Regions from separate parts of the Homo sapiens genome. Here region 1 is linked to region 2. The links come from fine-mapping of genetic effects on gene expression. A gene starts in region 2. The other region holds a variant in brackets. All regions are shown on one strand. Distances are between the middles of the regions.

Region 1 (5,396 bases), 77 kb after region 2:
TGACATTTTGCCTCTGTGAAGTTGGCTTAACCGAGAGGAATTTAAAGTCATTCCAATTATTTTGGAATAATATATCTCTCTATAAAAGTGATTCATTAATTAAAACTTAGATAGCATTTGATTCTCATTATTTGCAGCAGTGTGTTCTATAAAGTTGCTGTGAATACTAAATTAGCAAATACTGAACCATTACTCCCAGAGCAAATATAGGATTAGGTTCCTGTGAGCCTCGGGTTACGACATGTTTATCAGCCCATCAGTACATAATCTGAATTCATAGCCAACAACGCTGTAACTCTTGCCTAAATGAAGCTTATCAGACACACATATTTTGTTTCTCAGGCACATCACAGCCTTCTTGTACTTAGAAACACTAGACAGCACTTCAACGCAACACTTGCAGTGGCATTCTAAACAGTTAAATCACCAACAAAAAGCACAAAAATACAAAGCACTTGGCACTAAATAGGTCAAGAAAAGGAAACTTGTTTATAGTATGAGAGCCTAAGCAAGAAGGCAGAGCATGCCTTGTTTGTATTCAGCTGGGAACATGCATGTTGGATGACTCAAAGTTTTCACTGTTCTGCACGTTTATGACTGACTCCAAAAATATCAGAAGTATTGACTTTAGGGTTACAAATAAATTTCAGTGAGTAGGCAAATTTGCAAACATTGAATCCTCAAATAATGAGTATCTATGATACGGTGTGGTCACAAACCTCTGTTGTTGTAATCAGGACATCCTAGTTTATGTAGAATACCTTTCTGCATAGCATCAGGATCACATTGTGTATAAGTATAAAGGAGTACCTGTAAGGCTTGTTTGCAGTTATTAATGTGTGATCTGATCTTTCCAGGTGCAACTTATGTCCTTGAGAATCAGGGTCCACATTTAAATACGACCTTTCATAGTGCTTTTTATTAACAGACTCTCAAAAAATAGTTGTTGAATTAGGGGGCTAAATTCTTTCCATGTTGTTATCATACTGGTTTCCTCAACTGTCATGTGGAGATAAAACTTCCTCATAGAAGTGTCTGTATGATTAAATGAGATAATTCATGAAAGCACTTAGCATAATACTTGGTTAAAAACTCAGTGTTAGCTATTACTTAATGATATTAATGTTAGCCATTTAATCGTATTAATCTATGACATTAATAGATGATGATGATGATGATGATGATGATGATGATGATGAAAGTGCTGTCACTGCTTCCTTTACTGTGTGCATGAATTCCACTGTCTTTCCCATGCTGGCATTGGGCCATGGTGCCATAAAGATGATGAAAATGTTAGGAAGACACCCTTTGTCTCAAGAGTAAATCCACCATTTTTGTCCTCATTCTCAGCAGGTCCCTGTGTTCTAAGCTTAATTTTCTAAGCTGCCCTCGGAATTAAATTTTATAGTGAATTAGAACATCAGCATGTGTGTTGCATGTGTTTATTAAGCTGAAGTAATACTTCCAGAATGCCAGAATTGGATACTGAACCTCTTTTTAATGAGTTTTATTAGCAAATTGGAAATAAGTATGGTGAAACTTCTGAGAGACTTTAAGAAAAAAAAATGCGAATGTATACTCTTTAGGCCTAGTGGAATGTTTGTTAGGTTTTGGTTTATGGCGATTTGATTTTGTTGCACATTTTCAAGCTTTTATAGGTGTAATATTTTTCTTTTGTGCTGATTGAGGTAGAATGATGAAGACAATGGAAGAATAATTAGATTCTTGGTGACAACATTAAAGCTAAATTAAGAATTTTCTTGTATTTAGCTGTTTCTTATAAAACTGAGTACTTTCACTGTGTTGAGACACCCCACGAAAAGAGGCCCTTTATACTCATTTTTTAATAACCTGTGTTTTCTTCAGTATGAATCTGATGAACAAGAAAAGAGTGCCTATCAAGAGTATGACAGTGACAGTGATGTTCCTGAGGAACTCAAACGAGACTATGTGGATGAGCAGACAGGAGATGGTCCTGTGAAAAGGTGATTGTTCTTAAATTGTGTGGTATTTAGCATTTTATCTTGTGCTCTTAACATATAGGATTTCCTTTAAGGTTAAGAAGAAACAAAAATTATTTTTTTTGGTACTTATAATGTCACCTGACAGAAGTTAGTATGTTTTAAAAAATGATTCCTGGAAGGCTAAAAATGTGTTGTTCCTCTTAACATTTCATAACTGAATTTCAGGAAAACTAAAATAGTTATATGAAAAGTTCTGCCTTGCAAAACCTTTGCTGGTATCTCACAGATCAGTTCATCTAACTGTGAACTGGATTGTTAATGTGTCAAAAAAGAAATTGATTTAGCCATTTAAAAACTTTTAAGTGGCTAGTGTTAATGTAGCTTTCCTTTGAGTTATACAGTTTGTTTGACATTGCTTTTTGTAGCAAGATTCTAGTTCCTTTTTTATGGTATCACAAAGTTAGTGATTTGTTTAAATCTGTTAAAATTACTTTATTATCTTGTTGAAAATATTGGGCATAATCAAAGAGATTAGTTTTTGCAGAGGAAAAAGCCTTTAGATTTATAAAATCAATCCTGCCTTTGGTGGCCATTTATGCTTTACATAGATAAATAAAAATCCTCAAGGAGAAAATGGTCATTTGTTTTGTATGTGGAGTTCTTGCTTCAATCTTATAAACACAGAAAGTCGCCACTTATTTCCCCTATGTCATTTTTGTTCACTATTTGAACCTTCTATCAAGGTGTCCTATTAGTGGTTGAGTTTTGTTTTATGATAAACTGACCTCTTCAAAACTATGATAATTATAAGAGAATTTTTTCTTACCTTTTGCCAGTTAAATGGGCCTGATTCTGGAATGTTAAAATGACTTGATTTCATGACTATCATACATTTAGTGACTATAGATATACTTTTTGCTTAATGATAGATTTCTTAATGATAGATTCTTAATGATAAGTATATTCTTATCGTTTAACCCTAAGCTACCTATTTAATACTGTTTAACTTGAAATCTC[G/A]ACTGAAATAATTCTGTTTTCAAAAGTGAGCAATTCACGTAGTTGTAGCTATTTTAATTGAAAAAATTTGTTCTATTGGTTTTTGCGTATGTATGATATTAAGTGTCAGCATGATCTACTGTGAACTGAATAGAACTATTTTGTTGGAATTCTTTATTAGATGTGTTTTGGGAATATTTTGGCCAAAAGGAAAGGTCTATTTGAATTGAAATGTACAAGTAAGATAGTGTCTGCCAGTACATGTGTATATACCTCCATTTTTGGTAGGGTTACTGGAGCCCCCTAAACTTTTTACCCTTAAGAAGTTTGAATTGAACAAATTAGTAACTGAAGCCAATAAATTAATAGATATTATCAGTTCTAACTTGTGTCTCTTGAATTGACCAATTTTTCTTGTATTTTACCACTACCATTCTAGTTTATGCCAAAGTTATCTCTGTGCCAGATTATTAAATCAACTCCTTTACCTTGGATTCTTGTCTCTAGGCTTGCCCCATTCCAAACAACTCTTAGATCTAAATTTAGGGGTTTTTTTTTTCATAGTTACAAATTTAATCATGCTGTTTTTCTGCTTAGCTTTTAGTGACTCACCACTGTGTTCAAGATAAGGTTCATATCCCTCAGGTTTGATTGCTTTCAGAGATATCTGGCCTTTACTTGCCTCCTTTCTTGTCACTTTTCCCTCTGTTCACTTCTTCTACATGCGAACGTGGTGAACTCCTTGTACTTTTCTGAGCGCACTCTGTTCTCTCTTATCTCTGACCCTATTTTATGCCGGCCCTTTTTTCTGTGCTGACCATATAGCTTTTACTTTTCTTTTGAACCTTATGCTGCCCCGTAACCCCAAATACTGCCATCAATATTCTGTACTTAATTCACGTTCTTAGGAGGGTATTTTTTCATAAGTTTCTGAAATCAAGAAACAGTACATTTGCACCTAGATGTATTATTATCCTGGAAAATCAGTTTTTTAAAGAGATGTAGCTTTTTTAGTGGTTGATAATGTTTTATAATCGAAGAAATGCATTATGGTACTTTATTTTTTTGCTTACTTATTTCCCTTATGGATTGTAAATTTTATAAGAAGTTAATTTCTATATCTTTACCTAATGCATAGTAAGATTTTCATTAAATAATTAGTTAATAAAGGCTAGGGACCTATCTGACTAACTTATTGGTTTATTACTTGACAACTCTAGCAACTCTGTTTTGTTTTTCCATATCAAGTGTTTCTCGGGAAACTCTAAAAAGCAGGAAGAAATCAGATTACAGTCTAAATAAAGTGAATGCACCTATCTTAACAAATACAACATTGAACGTCATAAGACTTGTTGGTAAGTAGCTACACCTTTAAAAAAAATTATAACAGTTAAATTAGTTTGTTACCGAATGACTTTTACTTGTGGTTTTTATTGTCTTGTATACTCCAGTGCTCTATGCAATGAGGGATTTAAGGTTATCATATGTCAATGCTTCTCATTTTAAATGTTCCAAATACTATAATACTAATAGTAATGCCAGTTTTTCTTTTTCAGTTACCTGTTTATTAAGTCTTTGTATCTTACAATTTTTCTAAAATATTTCAGTTAATTGAAATGCGATGAAAAATTCTCTAGGTAGGTTAGAGGTATGTGTAAGATAAGTTAGTACCAGTTTCACATTTATACAATATTTTTGTACTTAGTTGTTTCATAGGTCTTTACCATCTTCTGTCAGGCAGAGTGAATAGTGACTTTCTGGCATTTTCAGACACAAGGGATTTACAAGCTAAATGTTCAGATTATAGGAAATGTTGTTTTTGTAACAGATAAGACCTTTATTGATGATTTTGTAGAAGGCAAACAATATGAAGAAATGATATTTTAAATATTCAGGTTTTAGGATGATGTGGATTTTTTTAAAATCAGTATTTCAACATCTTGTATGCTTTTAGCCTTTGTATCTCACAAATAAGTCTATGTATTTGACAAATAAGTTATAGAGATGTCTTCTCCTATTAAACTTCATTGTTCCAAGCAGGAATTTTAGTGGTTTTCCATAAAAATCTCTATATTCTATCTATGGAGATGGTATTTACCTATTGCCTAGTTTGATTAACCTTAGCTCTGTTGAAATAGTCTGTGTTCTTTAAGATAATTCTTAAATTTAATTAATGAATAGGATAAAATGTACAGAATGCTTTTTAGGAGTCACGGTTTCTCTAGAAAGAGCAAAAAATATTACTGAATTGAGAAGAACAGAAAGGTATACCTTTTCATGATGCTCAGAAAAAAGGATAGATTCTAAAAAGCTATTCTGTGGCTAATTATTGCCAGGGAGCTAAGCTTTTCTTCTTCTTCCAAGAGAACTGACTGAACATAGTGTCAGAAATAACTCTCGAGAATTTGTAGAATCAGAATTGGGAGAGTGCTGAGT
Region 2 (5,396 bases):
TAGACAGATAGAAATGAATAACGTAAGGTTCAATTATTTCATATAGTGTTAAGGTATGCTGAATTAGAAAATATAGTTTATTTAGACACCAGCGCTGATTTACTTTACAAGCTTTCAATATTATAGTTATAGCCTTAAAACATTTAGAAGACTGTATCCATTTTTATCCATTTCTCCAGTTTGTAGGAAATAAACTAAAATGTAGAGTTTTGGAGTAAAACAAAGTTTCAATACTTTCTTGCGTTTTCAGTGTCGAATAGATAGGGATAACACTCATTTTTCTGAATTTGGCCAATAGAAATACACATATTAGATAAAAAAAACTTTTTGGGGGGATCATCTTTAACTTTGTGTATTTGAGTATGTGAGGGAGAAAATTCCGGGGTTGAATCTGGGTTCTAGTCCTAGATCAAGCTCTCATGAAATATGTGGTCTCGAACCCTTATACAGATACGTTTTCTCATCTTTACAGCATGGATTTGACATGCTAGAGCTGGACTGCCTTTAAGAATCACTGAAGATTTTAAACAAACAAACATCCCCAAAGAAAACAACAATAATAACAGCACACACCTCAGGTGAATCTGAACAGTCAGGTTTGAGATCTACTGAACTCAGATCACCCCTAAGATATGCTTTTAAACCCAGTTGTGAACTCCTTGTGACCACAACCATAGATTATTAATCAAAGTGCTTATTTTAGTGTTGCCTTGAGCGCAACAATCAAGAAATGTTTATTGACTTGGGTTTTATTTTATAGGCTAATATGGCTGGCAGTTTTTGTTTCTTTTGATGCTTTCAGGGACTTCTAAATATTGCAGATTTTCACACACAAAGAACAGTCTGACAATTAAGATTAGAGAAGGTAAAGAATAAACTAAACTAGACTTGCCCTAAATGTGACCAGAATTTCTTGAAGGGGTTAGAAATAACAGAGTCAGAGAAGCATATAGGTAAACATATAATTTCAAAGGAATTGCTGAACGCAGTGATGATACAAGTATGCACAAGGTGGTTCTGTTGGAGTAGAGAACTGGGCAGAATCAAAACCAATAATACCTCATAATTGTATAGTGCTTTACAATTTATACATTTCATTCACCTACATCATCTCACTTATCCTTACAAAGCCCTATATAAAATATTAAAATATTACAACCTCATTTGTAAAAATTAATAAAACGAGGCTCTAAGGGGTGAGAAAATAGAATTTCAGAATCAGAAATAACCTCTGTTAGTGTCCCCCAAACTTCAGTCATTTGCAAATCACCTTTATTAGTTTTGCCATATCTGACTACCACCCATACTATTGTTTACCTAGTATTTTTTATTACGTTGACACACTTGAACTTTTTTTATTCTAAGAAATATTTTTGAAATTATGGGTCTGTGTCATACTTTTAGAAGTTAACATTATAATAAAATAAACTTAAAAAAATTGGTGCCATGCTTTAGAACTTTCTTCAGCACAATACATGAAAATCTTAACACATCTGATGACCGATTAATCCTTCAGTTTCTACTTGCACATCTGCAGTAATCTTAGGCAAGTTCCTTAATTTCGCCATACCTGCTTCGTCATCTTTAAAATGGGAACCCACAGGATTCTTGTGTGGATAAATGAAATCATATATTTAAAGCTATTAGCAGTTCCTGACAGGTACTCGGCTTTCGATAAGTGTTAGCTATCATTGTTAGCTTTAGGGCTGCTTTTTCTTCTTCTTCTCATATTCTCATAATTGTAAAGTCCTTTTAAAATTGTGTCCCCAAAGACACTTCTGTTCCTTTCCCCAATTTAACTAAACTGCCAAAAGTTGAAAAGAGGACTTTAAAGTGACAGGTATACTCGTTATTGTCGTATTTCCCGTCATCACTGCTTTAGAGTACGGAGGTAAAATAATAGGCGGGCGTCAAAATCCTTCGATTTTAGAGCTTTTGCAGGGGATACCAAGACTGAGGTAGAACAGCCCTAAACCTGGAGGGCCGCCTATTGGGCAACCTAGAGCACACCTTTCCTCAGGCCAAACCCAGCGCGCCCGGGGTAGTCTCGAGTTCTCAGGTTACCCCTCAGTGACAGCCCTTTCTTGAGTTCCTTCTCCTTCGCGTCAGTCTCTCGTTCTCCCACCCCGCCCCTCTAGACCAGGTGAGGTTTCCTCCCTCACACTCCTAGGGGACATCGCGTCAATCTGGCTTATATATTGTCTCCTCTGAGTTTGATCTTTCGCTCAACGCCTAGTCACCTGTGACTTAGGTTTCCGTCTCGCCGAAGAGTAGCTACTGCCTAGTGCAAGCACCTTTGTAAGACCGGCGATCGCAGTGGTCGCTCTGAGCAGTAATATTTACCGGCTTAACTGAAGCACCCGCTCTTTTGCTTGCTGGGAGATGTAGTCCCTGGGTTGGCCACTTTAGTTCATCGTTGCTACCGCCGGCGTCCAGAAGACTACAGTTCCCAGCAGGCCCAGGGAAAGACAGGATACCCTGGGTCGGCTCCTCCACGTGACCACCCACTATGGCTTCCTAGTGTCAGGGCCAGCTGTGTAGTGGCTCGGTGTGATTTGTTAGCTCTTTGAGGCAGGGTACCCTCCTCAGGATTTCGATATGCAAAAAATCAAATCTCTCATGACCCGACAGGTAAGTCGCGGCGGCTGAAGCAAAGGCTTCCTTCATCTCGGAAGTGAGAGGAGCCGAGATGTTCTGTCCCCAACCAGTGGCGGGCGGGGATCTAAGTTATGGGTGGTGGCAGGTGTCAGGGGGACTGGGAAGCCGGGGCATACCCTAGAAAACTCACCTGGGCCGCCTGGGTTGGAGCACTGCTCCAGCGGGTACCAGCCTCCCAGAAATATTCGTTTAAAAATAAGTCATTGAAGGAATCAGGGTATCTTTGTCTCCCCTCCTCCTCTTTTTGCCGTCTTTCCAGAACAGCCCGAGCTTCCTTGCAAGGTCTTCCGCATCCAGGCTGTCTGTCATATGCGAGCTGATAGCCTGGGTAGGGTGGTGTGGTCTGTGCAGTAGAGGTGACCTGGAAAGACTGAAAACGGATGATTTGAAGACAGAATTAGTAGCTTTTGGATTTTGGGCAAGTCCCCAAACTTTGTAGCTTACGTTTCTGGATGTGAAAATAATTATTTTTGTTCATTTTACTTCACAGTTCTGTTATGAGGGTCATCGATAAGCTAATATATGTGAAAACTCTTTGTGAAATTCTGCTTTAAAAAATTTATTTTTGTCATGGCAAAATACTGATCTTTTCTTTTTTTTCCCCAGAATGGAAATTCATGAATAAGAGCTTTGGCTATTTTGTAACCTGTCTCATAAATGTTAGGGACCTCGTAATAATGCCTCAGCTTCATTTAAGAAGTGCAGAAATTTTCTTTTATGTACTTATTGATTATGACTTTGTTTTAGCTGCCTTTATTTACTTCAGCTTTAATATTTCACTAGAATTGGTCATTTTATTATTTTAATATGAAAGATAGTTAAGATTAGAGTTTTAAATCAACATGGCTTTTAGAAGTTTGGAGAATGTGGAAGGTAATCGTTTAGTGAAAGGTATATTTGTGAGTTTTTTTCTTGTTGATTACAAAAATAACTCAAATTCCACATTCTTATTTGAGAATTCACAATTTGAGAGATATATAAACAGGATACAAATTGTGTATTTCTCTTGCACAATGCACAAATGACCCTTACATGATTATTTTAGTTATGTCAGAGCATTTTGTTAATGTTATGAAAATATAATCAAAATGTTCTGTGAATAATAAAAATATTTAAGTAAGTGGCTAGTAACATTTGTTAATTCCTCACATGTGTTGAGTACTGGTGTTGTGCGTCCTACTACTTCTTACTTGACGATGAGTTTGGGTCCTGCTGTATCCTGTGGCAGCTGTGTGACTTTCGGCAAGTTACATAACGTTTTTAAGCATCTATTTCCACATCTTTAAAATAGGAATAATGTGTGCCTTATGGAGTTAGCCTGATAGTGGTGTTTACATGATATAATGAAGTTAAAGAGTTTAAGGCGTTAACGGAGTTCCTGGGCATTATCAAGGAAGTGCTTGAACGCAGAGACCGTTAGTTACATTGGCTATGTTGATGGTGGGAAAGCAGGAAAATTGGAAGCAGGCTGTTGCAGTAATTCAAGCAATAGATAAGTTCATGCTGACTTCGGTACCTGTTTGATTTTTAAATCAATATATACTTTTGTACTTTATATCACTAATACCTCTAAACTGCCTTTGGAATGCTGAATTTGGACTTTTGTGCATCAGCTGTTTGATGCTGTCTCAAGTTTGTTGCCTGCCATACAGTTCAGTGTAGTTAACGTTGTCATAATTGTATGGTAGCTGTGGTTGGTTTAGTTTTTTTGACCTCATTTTGTAAAACTGAGGAGAGAAAAAAATTTCAGATAGCAGTGATAAGTGTATGTCTCCTAAATGTAATGCAATTGTGCTGAAAATGGTAACACTTAAGCCTTAGTCAGTTGCTTATTGAATTTCAGCAGGTCAAACCTGTGTTTAATTGAAATGGAAAAAAATACATTAAAGAACACATACAAAAAGCTGGAACCATACTGTGTACAAAGTGAGGTAAAATTAGGAGTTTTGCATACATATTTAAAGTTATCCTAATTATATATGTTATGGCTTGACTTTCACATATTTGATACTGATGCACAGTTCCTGAATCTATGAGGTATGAAATTAGTGTGCCTGCTATTTACATTGAGGGTTTGAATTAGTACAGTTTATTATTGGGTTAAATTTAATAGGATTACAAGTAAGTATACATGAAAGTATTTCTTTTTTTGAACCTATAGAATGTGCTAATAATATATATTGAGTTAATATGGAGAGATAGGAAATTAAGGTCTGTGAAATTTAAGCTTTGGGACATTTCAGCTGTCCTGGGATCTTTGTTTGCAAAATAATGGGAGGAAGGAAGGCTTTGTTAGCTCTCTTTATTTAGATGAGATCTGTTCTTCATCTTTCTCCATCATGCTCACCTCTGTTCTTTCAGTCCATTCAACAAATGTTTATTGAGCAATTTGTGCCAGGTACTATTCTAAGTAAAAAAAAAAAAATAGACAAGTGTTAAGGCAGACACGGTGATAAACACTGTAGAGGAAAAGAGGATAGAAAGTCCTGGGAATTGTTGGTGATTTGAGGTCACTTATAATTTTAGATAGGATGGCCACGGAAGGCCTCACAGAGAAGGTAATATAAAAAAACCTGAAGGGGGTGAGGAAGTGAACTCTGTGAGGTAGATATTTGGGAAGGAGCATTTCCAGTGGAAGGAAAGGCAAATGCAGAGGTCCTGAGGCAGGAGCTTGTTTGAGAAATTGCAAGTGGCCTGTGTGGGTGAAGTGAGTGAGGAGAAGAGTAGTGGGAGATGAG

Direction of the effects. Alleles are on the strand shown, and positions count from the first base shown. SD is a standard deviation of normalised expression in the study named.
For the expression in pancreas of the gene that starts at base 2,497 in region 2, allele A in region 1 goes with a higher level than allele G (large effect, 0.92 SD a copy in GTEx).

What was found. PIP is the estimated chance that this variant, and not a neighbour inherited with it, causes the effect.
Region 1: its variant is fine-mapped to the expression of VPS50 in pancreas (GTEx, PIP 0.95).

Annotation. Positions count from the first base shown.
Region 1 is chr7:93,306,958-93,312,353 of GRCh38, forward strand. VPS50 (VPS50 subunit of EARP/GARPII complex) reads left to right here. Exons shown (of 28, transcript NM_017667.4): 19 at 1,867-1,985; 20 at 4,209-4,315. Among named protein-coding and RNA genes, the nearest start is that of VPS50, 77 kb to the left of the region's middle. The variant G/A (reference allele first, on the strand shown) is at 2,982.
Region 2 is chr7:93,229,870-93,235,265 of GRCh38, forward strand. It overlaps VPS50 (VPS50 subunit of EARP/GARPII complex), which reads left to right and starts at 2,497. Exons shown (of 28, transcript NM_017667.4): 1 at 2,497-2,631. The coding sequence starts at 2,599. It also overlaps a transcript of HEPACAM2 not described here. RefSeq lists enhancers at 2,198-2,267, 2,408-2,577, 2,668-2,717, 2,958-3,017.